Linked DNA regions of Homo sapiens: region 1 is linked to region 2. Evidence: fine-mapped expression QTL. Tissue or cell type: whole blood. Region 2 holds a variant in brackets; the other region holds the start of a gene. All regions are shown on one strand. Distances are between the middles of the regions.

What was found. PIP is the estimated chance that this variant, and not a neighbour inherited with it, causes the effect.
Region 1: AP5Z1 starts here. The variant in region 2 is fine-mapped to the expression of AP5Z1 in whole blood (INTERVAL, PIP 0.95).

What each region holds. Positions count from the first base shown.
Region 1 is chr7:4,771,685-4,779,830 of GRCh38, forward strand. It overlaps AP5Z1 (adaptor related protein complex 5 subunit zeta 1), which reads left to right and starts at 3,939. Exons shown (of 17, transcript NM_014855.3): 1 at 3,939-4,072. The coding sequence starts at 4,032. RefSeq lists enhancers at 2,681-3,357, 3,358-4,034, 3,408-3,457, 3,498-3,587, 4,018-4,087 and 2 more and a silencer at 3,768-3,897.
Region 2 is chr7:4,727,912-4,735,911 of GRCh38, forward strand. All of the region lies in intron 1 of FOXK1 (forkhead box K1), which reads left to right. It overlaps LOC124901581 (a long non-coding RNA gene), which reads left to right. Exons shown (of 2, transcript XR_007060199.1): 2 at 1-2,110. Among named protein-coding and RNA genes, the nearest start is that of AP5Z1, 44 kb to the right of the region's middle. The variant T/G (reference allele first, on the strand shown) is at 4,843.

The DNA of each region.
Region 1 (8,146 bases), 44 kb after region 2:
GGCTCCCGGCCCCCTGGACACACAGGCCCCTGACCCCCTGGACACACAGGCCCCTGACCCCCTGGACACACAGACCCCTGACCCCTGGACACACAGACCCCTGAGCCCCTGGACATACAGGCTCCCGGCCCCCTAGACACACAGGCTCCCGACCCCCTGGACACACAGACCCCTGACCCCTGGACACACAGACCCCTGAGCCCCTGGACATACAGGCTCCCGGCCCCCTGGACACACAGGCACTGCGCCCCCCTGCTCCAGAGGCTGAAGGGCGGCTGCTGATAAGGGAAGTCGCCCATAGGTCCCTGGTGTCCCGTTCCTGGCTCACACAGGAGATGCTTCTGCAGGTGCCTGTGGCTCCTGGAGTCAGTGACCCCCACCCACTGAGAGTGCTCTAAGCGAGGATGTTTGCAGCTCCAGGAATGTGAAGACAACGTGTGTCTCCCCTCAGACATGGCAAAGGCAGAAACCAGCTGAGCCAACCCCCTGCCCCTGGCACACGCCCACATCCTGGCTGGGGGGCACTTGCAGGTACTCGTTGCTGCCCCAGTGGCTCCTGGGCAACTGTGGGTCCTTCCTGCTGGCCCTTGGCTAGATGAGAATTTCTACCCATGTCCAAGATGGGTAGAAATGTACGTGGGTAGAAATTCTCTCAGGCCTTACTTATTGTAGGTGTGGGGCCTGGGGGGTGGGGATGGCATTGACTTTGGAACTACACAGACCTGGGTTCAAGTTCCTACTGTGTCCTTACCAGCTGTGGGACTTCAGCTTGCAATGCGCCCCACTTCTTCACATGCAGCACAGGCACCCCCACCCCACAGGCCTGGCGCCCCGAAGCTCAGCTGCGATGCCATCAGTCACTGTCTCTTCTGAGAGTCCCCCAGACTTATGAGACCCTTGGGTGTGTCTGTGTGACTGCCTCCGACAGACTTGACAGTGGTGCATGCTTGTCACATGTCTCTCTTCTGTCAAGGTTCTGTAGTGTTTGCATGTGACTCCCTCAGTTCAATAACTTGCATTTTTCCGATGGCACAGTTACCCACCATTGCAGGTAAGGTTTCACTGCTTCTCTGTCTTCCTTCAAGTTACTCCATTTCCATTGTAAGAGGTTAACATAACTTTAACAGATTAGTTCTAGTTTAAGATGTCAGCCCAGGCTGGGCGCGGTGGCTCACGCCTGTAATCCCAGCACTTTGGGAGGCCAAGGCGGGTGGATCATTTGAGGTCAGCAGTTCAAGACCAGCCTGGACAACATGGTAAAACCCCGTCTCTACTAAAAAAAATACAAAAAATTAACTAGGCATGGTGGCTTGCACCTGTAATCCCAGTTACCTGGGAGGCTGAGGCAGGAGAACTGCTTGAACCCAGGAGGTGGACGTTGCAGTGAGCTGAGATCACGCCACTGCACTCCAGCCTGGGGGACACAGCAAGACTCAGTCTCAAAAAAAAAAAAAAAGAAAAAAAAGAAAAACATTTTAGCCCAATAGCAAACATGAGTGAGAAGCGTATGTAGGCTTCCTCCAGGGATCTGCGTTGGCTAATTATTAATTGCATCTTTCCTTTTTAAGATGTTGTCTTTGTGTTTGTTTGTTTGCTTGCTTGTTTAGAGACAGGGTCTTGCCATGTTGCCCAGGCTGGTCTTGAACTGGGCTCAAGCGATCCTCCTGCCTCGACCTCCCAGTGTTTGGATTACAGGTGTGAGCCACCGTGCCTGGCCTTTTTTGCTTTTGATTAGCACAACCATTTTTCACTAGTGAGACCTTAAAATAATATTTTACACTAATGTAAATATTTTGTAAGAAACAAGTCAAATATTACCCCTGGTAAAATTGCTTAAGGTCGTGTCTGTGTGAAGAGAGAGAGGGAGAGAGAGATTGAGATTCCTGGCACACAGTTGGAATCTCAGTTAAAGTTAGCTTCCCTGTGAACCTGGTATCTATACAACAAAGAGGGGTGCATCTCTCAGAACCCCAGAAGACATACAATTGTGCACTGCAGCTCTATTCGTTATTGTCAAAATCTGGAAACCGACCAAATATTCATGGACGAACAAGAAAAGCTAAGTACGGTACGATTCCATTTGCATGAAGTATAAAAAGACGCAAAACTAATCTCTGGTGATAAGAGAGACTAGCAGTTACTTGTGGGGGAAGGGAGTGGGCGTTGACTGGGAGGGGGCCACAGCGGGGAACCTCTGGGGAGCTGGAAATGGTCTAGGTCTTGAACTCAAACCATGGCAGGAACATTTACACCACAGAAATTATCAAACACAAATCAACCCCCGGCTCCCCACCGTCGCCAATGGAGCCGAGGCTTAAGACATTTGCAAATTTACCACCGATTTCTAGAAATGTAAATAGTGGAGTTCATTTAAGATTTGTGCGCTTTGGTGTGGACGTTTTACCCTAGTAAACGTTAAACACTGGCAGTAGGCTTTCCATAGACTACCTGTCACCAGCTTTCCTTTGCCAGTCTTCAACCTGCGGCTCCAGGGGCACCCGCCGCACTCCACCGACTCCCATCCACCGCTCACCATCCACCGATTCCCATCTCTTCATTCTCTGCACCAGGTGCCCTCAGACATCACTGGGCGCCCTAGGGCATCTCAAAGCCATGTTTGGAACTCCTGCAGGAAGCCCTCCCTCCTCCTCCTCCTTCCTTCCATCCAGGGGTCTTCTCGGGGCTTATCCCTTCAAGGCCTAACCTTGACCCACCCTATCTACGCAACATTGATTCCCACCCCTACCCTATTCCCCAGAACCTTCAGCAGTGCCTAGCGCAGCTAGGACTCAATCATCGCTTGTCCACTTAATGAATGACTCTTGGCACAAATTTCCTCGTCCTTTTCTGCCCCAGACAGACACCCCACAAACATGAAGTTACCCTTGATTTTTCCACTTTCTTCCTCCTGCCTGCAAATTCCTCAATCACAGGTGGTGCAAATCCTACCTCTAAATGGTACTGAATCTGCCTACTTTCGGGGCAACCTCCCTTACCTGGACCACAACTGCACCAGCCTCCTTTCTCCCTCAGGAGCTTCCCAATCCATTATCTCCCCTGCGGCCAGAGATCAGTTTCCTCCTGGGGTGCATTTAAGCCATAGGAAGCAGATCGCTACCCTAGGCCCGTCCCTCCCCACCCCTTGGTCTGGACACCCTCTGGGCTCATCTTAGGCCGCAGTCGCCGAAGCCTTCCTCCTCCGGTTGGACCCCCAACCAGGTCAGGCTGTCATAGCGTTTATCATGACGCTGGCGTGTCGCCCTGTGTCCCTCGGCCGTCTGCAGGATGGCAAACTTATGGCCAGGGCCCAGCACATTTGGGCACCCAACACATCCGTTAGAATGAACAGAAACTTCCCCTCTCCGAGCCTGTGGCCTCATCTGTAAAACAGAGATCGCGAGATCCCATGAATACCGTGGGGATTGAATAAGGGATTTTTTCGTTTCAAGCAGCAGGAACAGCGCGGGATGGGTGCTCAATAAATGGGAGCTCAAAAAATCCCCAAAACTGCCCAGAGCCGCGGCTATTCCTTGCAAACTGCTGGACACTGCTGGGCTCAGCCCACAAGTGTCGGAGTTTGCATCAGATTTTCAGGTCGTACTTAGCAAAGGGACTCCCGCACGACAAAGCTGTTTACGAAACAGAAACCAGAACTGGGGCAGTGACACTTTGGGGCCAGCAATGCCCTCTCCCAAAGCCCCAGGCGCCCAATTTCCGCCGAAATGCTTTCCGGGGTCGAAGGGCGCCGGGGCTCCAGAGTGCCGAGGTTCCGGGGTCGCGCGATTCCGCAGCTCCCAGGCGCCGACCCGGACCCCCGGCCGCGGCACCTACGCCCCGCCCCAGTCGCTCCACGCCAAAGCCCATTGGTCGGCAACCTGTCCCTCCTGCTCATGTGATGCGGCACGTGACGCAGCCACGTAAGGCCGCTGCGCTCACGTGACGCGGTCCCGGAAGTTGACCGGGGTGCGGAGCTCCTGGGCTGCAGCTCCTGGAGTTTCCGAGGTTCGTGCGCGTCTGGTGGCGGCGGCGTGATGTTCTCGGCAGGAGCGGAGAGTTTGCTCCACCAGGCCAGGTACGGGGGAGCTGCGGCCCCGGCCCTCCTTCCTGCATCTCTCCCTAGGGGCACACGGGGGTGGGTCTCACAGGGCAGGGGCTTGGGCGCCAGCCTTGCAGGAACCCGACTGGACTCGCCCTCGAGACTTGGGGATCGGGTAAGGCAACACGGCGGCCAGGCTTGGGGTGAGGAGGTCGGGGAGGGTCATGGTGGGTCCCCGGAGGAGGTGACACTTGAGCAGAGTCTTGGTGAGTGAAAGCAAGTGGGGTGGGACCCAGTCGACAGTTTAGTCAAAGGCTTGGCGGTGAGAACTCCGCGTCTGGCAGGAAATCGGGCAGCCGGGAGATTTCAGTGCCTCACAGTCAAGAACGCAAAGTCACAGTGTCCGGAGGCCTGCTAAGGAATAAGGCTGTGTGCCAGGCTGGGGAGCTGGAGGCCATCCGAGGGCTTTGCGGAACCGTGGGAGGGTTTTGTGACTTAAAAAGATCTCTCTTGCGCGGATGTATTAGCTAGGCTGAGAAATCACCCTCCAGGCTGGTTTCAGGCTGTGTCTGGACTCCCAGTAACGAGTGAGTAGCTCCTTCCTCACCAACTAACCAGTCATGGGGGAAAACAGTGTAAGCCAGGACTGAACAGACTCACGGTCCACCAAACAGGCAAAGACTTCATACTACATGTTTAAAAGAAGAAAATGCTGACCGGGCGTGGTGGCTCACGCCTGTAATCCCACCACTTTGGGAGGCCAAGGCAGGCGGATCACCTGAGGTCAGGAGTTCGAGACCAGCGTGCCCAACATGAGGAAACCACGTCTCTACTGAAAATACAAAAAAAAAAAAAAAAAAAAAAATTAGCCGGGCGTGGTGGTGGGTGACTGTAATCCCAGCTACTCGGGAGGCTGAGGCAGGAGGATTGCTTGAACCTGTGAGGTGGAGGTTACAGTGAGCTGAGATGGCGCCACTGCACTCCAGGCTGGGGGACAGAGCGAAACTCCGTCTCAAAAGAAAAAAGAAAAAAAGTAAAGAAAATACAGCCAGCACTACAGCCCCTTGGTAAACGTAAACAAACTTGGTGAGGTGAGAGGCCGAAGCAGGAGAAGTGCATGAACCCAGGAGGCCGAGGGTGCAGTGAGCCAAGATCGCACCACTGGACTCCAGTCTGGGTGACAGAACGAGACTCCATGTCAAAACAAACAAGCAAACCTGGACTCAGAGCTAGACCAATTGGTGGGAAAGATTCGGGTGGTTGAAATTGCTGTGATTATAGTGAGTGAGGTCTTGAAGGCAGGTTAAGTTCTAAAGCCCGAACAGGACAAAAATCTCTGATCAAAATAACCCTTAAGAGTCCACTCATTAGGAAGAGGCTTGGTGAATATGCAGCACCATCTCCCAGCAGCTCAACATAGGCAACCTTCCCTTCAATCCTGGACAGATATGTCATTCATGTGAATGTGGGGACTATATGAAAATGAAAAATACTGGCATCTCAGCATGTAACATGTTAATCCCAAGGTCCTTGCCAAGAGACAAGGAAAAACACCCACTGAGAACTTCATTCCCAGTCACATTCTGCTCAAGGTCATAAACTTGTGACATGAAAAACAAAAGGAAGAGCCCTCTTTATTTATTTATTTATTTATTTATTTATTTATTTTTATTAGAGTCTCTTTTGAGACAGAGTCTCCCTCTGTCGCCCAGGCTGGAGTACAATGGCGCAATCTCAGTTCACTGCAACCTCCGCCTCCTGGGTTCAAGCAATTCTCCTGCCTCAGCCTCCCAAGTAGCTGGGATTACAGGCGCCCGCCACCACACCCGGCTGATTTTTTGTATCTTTAGTAGAGATGGGATTTCACCACATTGTCCAGGCTGGTCTCGAATTCCTGACCTCAGGTGATCCGCCTGACTCGGCCCCTCGAAGTGCCGGGATTACAGGTGTGAGCCACCATACCCGGCTGAGCCCTCACTATTTAAATACCTGTTTCTCTGCCTCCCTGGCTCGGGTGGGCAGCCGTTTTTGAGGATAGAGTGTGGTTGAATTTCCCTATGTAACATACATGAGTTCTGCAGTTGCCCTCTGTTAGGGTTTCAAGAAGGTTAATCTATTAGGGCTTACCAGTTTTCACAATATTCTTAAGCCTGTGATTTCTGATGATATTTTAAAATAAATGACTGTAGTTTGAGGGTTAAGGTTTGGAGCCGGCCAGGCGCAGTGACTGGCCCACGCCTGTAATCCGAACACTTCGGGAGGCCGAGTTAGGAGGATCGCTTGAGGCTAGGACTTTGAGACCAGCCTGGACAACATAGCGAGACCCGTCTCTACAAAACAGAATTTTTAAAAAACTTAGCCAGGTGTGGTGGCACGTACCCATAGTCACAGCTACTCAGGAGGCTGAGGCAGGAGGATCACTTGAGCCAAGGAGGTTGAGGCTGCGGTAAGCTATGATGGTGCCACTGCACTCCAGCTCGGGTGACAGAGGGAGACCCTGTCTCCAAAGAAAGCCAAAAAGATTTGGAGTGAACTTTAGTTTCTCTCTAAATGTGTCAGAGATACGGAAAGCAAGGGTGCAAAAAGTGATCAAAGATAGCGCTGCAAGCTGAAGGATAAATGGAGAGAGCGGGAAGCGAGTAAAGGATGGGGGCATGGAGGGGTGCCCCGCAAGGTCGGGGATTTCCAGGAGGAAGAGCCTCAGCCCACTAGCTCGGGAGCTAGTGGGGCATGTATCAGGCACAGGGTCTGTGCGAAGGGACAGAAGCAAAAGAAACAGGACATGGAGTCTGGAGAAGGAAGGCGGGGCCGGGCTCTTGGAGGCAGCGTTGGGGTCTGTAGGAGTTTGGATTTGAAAGCAGTGGGGAGCTGTTGAAGGGTTTGGGTGGGTTGGATTTTAGAGAGAAGCTTGAGACTTGGAGAATATGCTGAAGGGAATTTAATCGGGATGAGGGGTTCCACCTTTCTGGGAAAGATTTTCCATTGTGTGTATATATGTATATGTGTGTATATATAATTTATATATAACATTTTATATATTATATATTACATATATATTTAGTAATATATAATATAATTATATGTTATATATTATATGTTATATTATATATCATTATATATAATATATAATGATATATAATATTTTATATATAATCAAAAAAAGAATAAAAAAAATTCACTGGGCTTAGTGTAGTCCCAGCTACTTGAAAGGCTGAGGTGGGAGAACTGCTTGAGCTAGAAGATCAGGCTGCAGTGAGCTGAGATTATGCCACTGCACTCCAGCCTGGGTGACAGCATAAGACTCTATCTCAAAAAATATATATATAGATAGATAGATAGATATAAAAATATATTTTTATATGTAATATATATAAAATATATATTATATACATTTTTGAGATAGAGCATATTATATATTATATATAACATATATAACAACTATATAACATATATAACATAACATATATAACAACATAATATATAGCATATATTATGTATAACATATATTAGATATAACATATATAACATTAGAAATAATGTATATAACATAACATAACGTATATAACGCATATAACAACATATATAACGTATATAACATAACACGTTATATATGATATATAACATATAACATGTTATATATCATAACGTGTTATATGTCATATAACATGATTATTATATATCATATATAACATGATAACATATATATCATATATAACATATATAACATTATATATAACATATATATTATATTATATATATATATTTTTTTTTGAAGTAGAGTCTTACTCTGTCACCCAGGCTGGAGTGCAGTGGCACAATCTCAGCTCACTGCAGCCTGATCTTCCAGCTCAAGCAGTTCTCCCACCTCAGCCTTTCAAGTGGCTGGGACTACACCATGCCCAGTGAATTTTTTTTATTTTTATTTTTTTTTGTTTTTGAGACGGAGTTTTGCTCTCGTTGCCCAAGCTGGGGTGCAATGGCATGATCTCAGCTCACTGCAACCTCCTCCTCCCGGGTTCAAGTGATTCTCCTGCCTCAGCCTCCTGAGTAGCTGGGATTACAGGCTTGTGCCACCACGCCCAGCTATTTTTTTTTGTATTTTTAGTAGAA
Region 2 (8,000 bases):
GAGGAAAAGCGGCCGGTAAAATGGAGACAGTCGGTGGCGTGTGTTTGCCGATTGGACTGGCATTGGTATAGACAGATACCAATCACTGCACAGACATTTCCAGGGGCCCTTCCCCAGCCATGTTTAGTGGCACTGACCTCAGGCAGCTGGGCCCCCGGGACAGCAACCAGGGGACTGCCCTGGCCCTGGATGGCAGCCGGGACCGGCTCACAAGCTTCTGTTTGGAGCAGTTCTGTTGGCAGCCCCCCGCCTCCAGTGGAGATGTGACACGACTCTTTCTTGCCTGCCAAACGTTCTCTGATTCTTTGGATCATCGATCCTAACACAGCAAAGGCGGTATTGTTGCTGTCCTTTCAAGGTTAATCCAGGATCAGAAAAGTCTAATCATTTCTCTGTGGTTTTTGGAATTTCCAAAGAGCACCCAGATTTTAACCCTCAGTCCTCGGGGTTGTCCGGCTGCGGCTGTGCTGCTGTTGAGCATTAAGCTCATTCCACTTCACATGTAAACTTGTTTCTATGCATTCACCTCCTGGGAGACTCCACATTCCTGAGAGAACTGCATGGTTATGAACTCTTACTCGTGTGCACTAAAGTGCACGTGCTGTGTGTGTACTGACCCTCTGCCCTGTGGGAGCCACGTGCTGTGGGGAGAACAGACCAGCAGCAGATGGGACTCCTCCTCCAGGAACCTGCTACCAGCTAGGCGTGGTGGTGCAAGCCTATACTTCTGGCACTTTGGGAGGCTGTGGCAGGAGGATCACTTGAGGCCAGGAATTTGAGGCCAGCCTGGGCAACATAGTGAGACCACGTCTCTTTTTGAAAAAAAAAAAAAAAAAAAAAGAAAGAAAAGAAAACGTATTTTTCTTAAGTCGGGCATGAGAGTGAGCCAGGGAATTCAAGGAAGGCTGCCTAGATAGAGAAGGGGACCCTGGGGAACAGTCTTAGAGGACGCAAAGTCTATGCAGATAAACCAGCGTCTGGTACTTGGTATCAGTCAGGTGGCCAGTGAATAATGACTACGTGGAATTACTGTGGACAGCATTTTGAGATCTGCAGATTAAGCCATTTTGACTTCCCAGAAGCATTTTCTTAAATCAGCGTAGAGACAGAAGATGAAAGTTAACCTGAATTGCTCGTCGCAAGCAAGCTCTGCCCGGGTCAGCCCCAGAGGGTTGCAGAACACTGTGTCTGTGTCCGCTGTCTTAAAGAGCCTAGTCCATCTTTACGCGGTCTTTTTACGTCTGTTTAAGCCACACAGCATGGTGGGGAGCGGAGGTGATTTCGGAGCCTACTCTCCGATCCTCAGGATCCTCTTCGGGAGCAGCAGGCAGTGGCTTTCTCCTGGGCCAGGCAGGGTTGTCTGGGGAGTGGAACGTCTGCTAGAAATGCAGATCGCTGGGGCCACCGCCGTTTGGCCGTGTCAGTCATCTGGGGGTCCCTTAGCCTCCGCAGAGTAAAGCTGTGGGAGTCACCACGGGTCCCCATGTTGGGATTGGGAAGCAGTCACCTACCAGATGAGCGTTCCTTCCGCGAAGGGAAGGTGGGGGGATTTTGAAGGAGCTGTGAACACCGAGGGTGCCGTCCTCGCCTGTGCTGCCATGGGGTGCTCAGGACTGCCGGGCCCCGGGAGCCCCACCCGGCAGGACACACACCTGAGCCCCAGGGAGGGTCGGTGGCCATGGCTGTGCTTGGCCGCCTCTGTGGGGCTCTATCCTAATTCAGTGAGGTCTCTCGCCACCTTCCTCCAGGGTCTTCCTGAGACAGAGACCGAGACTTCAGCTTCAAAAAGAAACCCTGGCCGGGTGCAGCAGCTCACGCCTGTAATCCCAGCACTTTGGGAGGCCAAGGCAGGTGGATCACCTGAGCTCAGGAGTTTGAGACCAGCCTGGCCAACATGGTGAAACCCCATCTCTACTAACAATACAAAAACTAGCCAGGCCTGGTAGTGGGTACCAGTAATCCTAGCTACTCGGGAGGCTGAGGCAGGAGAATCGCTTGAACCCGGAAGGTGGAGTTTGCAGTGAGCTGAGATCCAGCCACTGCCCTCCAGCCTGGGCGACAGAGCGAGACTCTGTCGAAACAATTTAAATAAAAAAAAGAAAAGGAAAAAGAAAGCCCGGCTTCGGTCAGACCGTTGTCTGCGTTTTTCACCGCGTGTCACCGACTCAGCATATGGGCTTGAGTATCTCGCTGTCTTTTCTTTTTCCAAATAGGACATGCTTATTTGCCTGATTACAAAAATAGATGCATTCTCCCTATTTAAACAAATTAGGCCCTATGAACGCATAAGAACTTATAAACACTAAAACTGCTACCGGGTTTTAATTCACACACACCACGCACACCCCCACATTGTTGTCACTGCGAGAACGGAGGGCCCAGAGCCGAGTACACTCGGCCAGGGTGAGTGATGGGCAGGCACAGAGCTGTGTCTCTGACCACCCTGCTACCCAGCTTGCCACCGCTGTCAGCCGTGGGGTTCAGGAGAACAGGGTTGTGGCATGGACCCAAAAGTGGAGTCACGGTTGCAGCTCTGGTTCCTGGAGGAGGGACGCAGGCCCAGTGGAGAGGGCGTGGTTTGCAGGCACCAGTGCTGGTTCCGTGTCTGTCGGGGAGGGGATGGACGTTTGTGTTGCTGTCAGGGACCTTGCCGACCCAGCCCCCGCCCCGCCTTCAAGTTTGTGCCTTATTTTCCAAAGCCGCCACACTTGAGACGTCCTTGCTGCGGGTTCGTCTGTAACCTGTGTCCCTTCACTGCCATGCACTGCTCTTAGCTGCTGGCGAAGACGTGGTCTCTGCAATAGAGAGGCGCCTATGGCTGCAGCCACCTGTGTTCGTTTTGGGGTTGTCATAAATAAATGCCTTCCATTTTTAATAGAAAGACAGTATTTTAGGTTAAAAAATTTAAGGTTGTCAGAATTCTCTGATTTGGGGATTTTATATGTTAACGTTTCTTTCAAAACCATTTCCTGAGGATGGGCGCGGTGGCTCACTCCTGCAATCCCAGCACTTTGGGAGGCCGAGGCAGGAGGATCCCTTGAGGCCAGGAGTTGGAGACTAGCCTGGGCAACATAACAAGACCCTGTCTCTACAAAAAATCAAAACCATTTGCTGAACAGTCTTATTTCTCGGAGGAGTTTAAGCAAACACTGCAGGGCCTCCGGCATTCCAGTTTCAGGCCTTATCTGATGTGGCCCACCCTGGGACCGTCACCTGACTTCCTGTCCCTGCACAGAGAACTTGCTGGTAGGAGGTGGTGAGGGGCCTCCGAGGTGGTGGGTGAGCATCCCTGCAAGTCAAGCTCTGCTGTTCCCCGGCCTTCCCTTGAGACTCTTGGGGGCCTGGGCCCTGCGGGACGTTTTCCCCCTGCCTCAGAGCCAAACCACTTAACAGAACCAGGCGAGCCAGGTTTAGTACTTTATCGGGTATCCTAAAGACACGTTGCAGCCTGCAAAATTCGAAAAGTACCTGGAGTATGTAACAGCTTTTGCCTCCCATTCTTGAGTCTTTCATTTCTTCAAGGACATGGTAGCAACATTTAAAGAACCTTTTGAAAAGAGAGAGGCGGCCGGGCACAGTGGCTCACGCCTGTAATCCCAGCACTTTGGGAGGCCAAAGCGGGTGCATCACCTGAGGTCAGGAGTTCAAGACCAGCCTGGCCAACATGGTGAAACCCCATCTCTACTAAAAATACAAAAATTAGCCGGGCATGGTGGTGGGCACCTGTAATCCCAGCTACTCGGGAGGCTGAGGCAGGAGAATCGCTTGGACCTGGAGGCGGAGGTTGCAGTGAGCTGAGATTGCACCACTGCACTCCAGCCTGGGCAACAAAGCGAAACTCTGCCTCAAAAAAAAAAAAAAAAAAAGAAAACAGAGAGGCCTGCTTATAACACCATCCTTATCCTGGGCTGTTTTCCTTTGTCCTTCCAGTCCTTGTCTAATAACAAGAATAACTGAAGCACATTTTCAGTAACCGCTTGCTACGTGCCAGCCGTCCGGTCAGGACTGATGTTCACGGCATGGAGACCTGAGGCCACACGGAGGCCGGGCTGGCCAGGGCGGGGCTCAGATTCAGTGACTTGCCCAGGTGCCCCCAGGGCATCTGAGCAGCCCAGGCTCCAGCCAGGCAGGTCTGACTTCACCTCCCTTGCCGTGAGCCGCTGCACTGTTCCACTTGGGCTTCTGCTACATTTATCAAGCTGTTGTAAACGTTTCCATATTCCCCCACGCCTCAGTATTTAGCGAGGGCTCCTTATGTGTGACACGCCCTGTGTGCGTCTGATGACGTTGCTTGGAATCATTTGTTCAGTCCACAAGAACTCTGATTATGCACCATCATTACCCCAGTTTGGCTGATGAGGGAAACCAGGCCAGTGTATGAAGAGACTGACCAAAGATCCCAGTGCCGACAGTTCTCCATTCATTCATTCATTCATTCAGTCACCATCATAGCCCACTGCGGCCTCCGCTGCCCAGGCTCAAGCCATCTTCCCTCCTCAGCCTCCCAAGTAGTTGGGACTACAGGTGTGCGCCACCACACCTGGCTAATTTCTTAAACAATTTTTAGAGACAGGATCTCACTGTGTTGCCCAGGCTGATCTCGAACTCCTAGGGTCAAGCGATCGTCCCACCTCAGCCTTCCAAAGCGCTGGGATTACAGGCGTGAACCACCGTGGGATTACGGGCATGAGCCACCGCGCCAGCCAATATGCATAGTTTTAAATGGCCATAGTAACGCAAGGCTTCAAACAGAAGTCCTCAGGTCTCACTTCGCAGAGGCAGTGGCTTTTAAAGCATCCTGATTAACAGTCTGAGCTGCTATTCACTGAGTTTTCGCCCTGT[T/G]GTAGACACACATGGCTTTCCGTTAGAGAAGACAGGGTCTGGCTCTACTGCTGCCCTCCTCATCCGGAGCCGCGGGTCTGCGCTGCACGCCCCTTACACGTGTGCCTCTTTCCCATAGCGCAGAGTTTATCTTCTTACTCGTCCAGCGTTCTCTGTACCTATTGTGAATTGATCTCTGGACGCTGACCCAACTCTAGAACTTCGCTCAGCAGTTGGGTAAGACGACATTCCTGTCCTTCAGTTCTCCTGGGAACTTTCTCCTGAGAGCCCTGGCTCTCTCCTGCACAGCTCTGGGCTCCTGCACAGCTTCTGTTCTGGGGCTTTTCACCCTCTTCCTGGATTCTTTCAGTTAGGACGTAGTTTTGATTTTGCAACAAAGGTCAAAAATAACGAGGGCCAAGTTTGTTTCTTTTATACGTGACGGTCTTTTTTTTTTTAATTTTATTATTTTTTTATTTCAAGCTGGGTTCTTGCTGTGTTGCCCAGGCTGGTTTCAAACTCCTGGGCTCAAGCAATCCTCCAACCTCATCCTCCCAGAGTGCTGGGATTATAGATGTAAGCCACCCTACCCAGCCACACATGACCATCTTAATGTCAGCTATGACCTGGAGGCACCAGACTTTTTCTATTACGTTGCTTGTTGCTCCGTTATGCAGTGTGCCTTTATGGTCCACTGTGGCTGCTCGGCTCCTGCCATCACAGCAGTATCTGGCTGTTGGGAAGGGGAGGAGTGAAGAAGGCCCTTGGTTCCTCATATAGACATGACCCATTTGTATCCCATTGACCAGCTCATAGTCTCATGGTTGCAAGAGGGGCAGAGAAACATGGTCTTCAGTTGGGTGGACGTTTCTCTGTCTCCATGTTTGCTATAGAAGCAGGAGAGAAGGTGCTCTGGGAACTACAGCCTCAGCCACAGTCCAGGAAGCTGCCCAGTGCCCACATGGGAACTGCATCCTGCAGGTATCGCTCGTGAAAACCGGCCTGGCGTCTTCTGGCCCTTGCTCTTGGGTCTGCTGTTTCTCTCACGGGAGAGGCTGCTCTGAGGTCCCCGAAGCTGCAGGCTGGGTGGGACGGTGGGAGCCTTTCCCTGGTCTTTAGTCCGGCTGACATCCTCTCTCTGGCCGTCATAGCCAGCGCCATGGGATTGGGGAAGCCACAGGGACCTCCCAGCACGCGCCAACCCTGGACTTCCCCCAGAGCTCATCTGGGTGGCAGGTGCTGGCCACGTGGAGTCTGCCCTCCACGTGCCGTGGGTGAAGCTTCACCTGGCGCAGGGAAGGCCATCAGACTTCCAGCTCGTCACCCATGTCCTCAACCCCTAACCACTGAAGCGATGCCTGTGTTTTAACCTTAGTAACCGTGCCGCCCAGCTCCTAGAAGACACGCGACTCCACAGCAGTTAGGAGACAGCAGATGCATTCCCAGAGCTCCTGAGAAGGAGCGGCTTGTGTGGGGTGACTCTATCTCAAGCCGTAGGCCTCCCAGACAGAGCCTCTGAAGCTCCTGTTTTCTTTGTCCTTCCTGAGACAGATCTCATCCAGCCTCTTCCTTTTGATGTTTTCTGAGTCACTTTAAACTGTGCAAGATTTCCCGTTTCCCCTGGCTGTGGCTCTTGTGGTCCTGGCCTTGGTGGGCAGGTGCAGGGCCCGCTCCCTCCTTGGGAGGATGAGATGCTCTGTGGCTTCCACCACTCCCCAGATCGTCTGCTTCCTCCTTGCCCCTCAAACTCCTTTGCCTCAGTCCCTGTCTTCCTTGATGGGGGCATTCCCCAAGTGTCTGTTCTTGTGGAAGGGGAGGTGCCCCCCGGCCCACCCCCCCGCTGCCCAAGTGTGCGTGGGCATCGGTGCACGGGGCTCCCTCCCTGGGGCTTCATGGGGGGCTCAGGAAGGCTGGGTCTCAGGCTTTTCTCCTGCGCCATTGTCTGCTGATAGCTGGGCTCAGCTCTGGAAGCTTGGGGGGCTGAGAGCCTCTGGTCCTCCTGCAGAATTTCAGGTCGCAAGGCTATTTTTGGCGTGAGATGTCACTGTCTGCCGCTTCTGTGTTGGGTGCCCTCGTCCAGGCCTCGGGTTCACCCCATCCAGAAAGTAAACCCGTCCTTCCGCTGGGAGAGACGGGGCGAGGGGACAGCGGTGGACAGGAGCGATCTGTCACATTCATTTTAAAAATCGCCTCCGGAAGCTTTCACGGGCTCTTCCTTCCCTCTCTGATTATTTCTCTGAGTCTGAAATGATGACAATTGTATTTATATTTATGTCATCGAGAATTAAGTGAGCTATTTTTATTTTCCTGACAGCTTTCTGTTTGGCCGGGCAGGTGGTAGGATTTGTGGCCTAGGGAGGGGATGGGAATGAAGGCACATGACATGCCCCAAGTCACTCGGGCTCAGCACTGGTGGAGCGGTGGCCAGTTCCAGCTCGCTGTGTAGAGACGGCTCTGTGGTCTGAGGCTGAGCCAGGCAGTGTCATCTCCAACCAAGTCACCAGTTTGGCCCAACTTCCAGGAGCCATCAGCTTCTGGGTGGACCTGGGAAAAACCCAGGGCTGGAGTAGACCCTCAGTGTGGGAGCTTTTGGGCAAGAATTCTCCCCAAAAACAGCTTGCCTGAGATCGACTGCACATACCTTACAACTAACCCTTTCCATTGTTCCAGTCCGTGGTTTTCAGCGCATTCGCAGAGTTGCGCGGCCACCAAGTCAACTTCGGAACATTTTCCTGACTCTAGAAAGAACCCCCTAGCTCTTAGTCATTCTCCGTCCCCCCTGCCTGTCCCACCCGTCACTCCAGCCCTAGGCAACCACTAAGCTCCTTTCTAAGTCGGGCAAGAATGTTCTGGAGAGATGTCCTCCACAGATGGGCACTTGCTCGTACAGGAACCTTTCCGCCGGGCTGGTGGACGGAGATTTCTACTCTGTGGACACACTTAACCTTAGCGGAATCTCCGCCGGTCAAGACCGGCAGTGTGTGTGGCTGGGTTTAAACCACCGTGCAGCACCTTCACGATGCAAAACGTGCTCGTTCAGACTCCAGCTAGAGCCCTGCACCTCCATCAAGATATTACAGGGAGAGATGTAACTGGCAAACTCCCTGAGCATGCTGGGGAAACATCTATTTAAAAATCAAGCCAGGTGCAGCGGCTCACACCTGTAATCCCAGCACTTT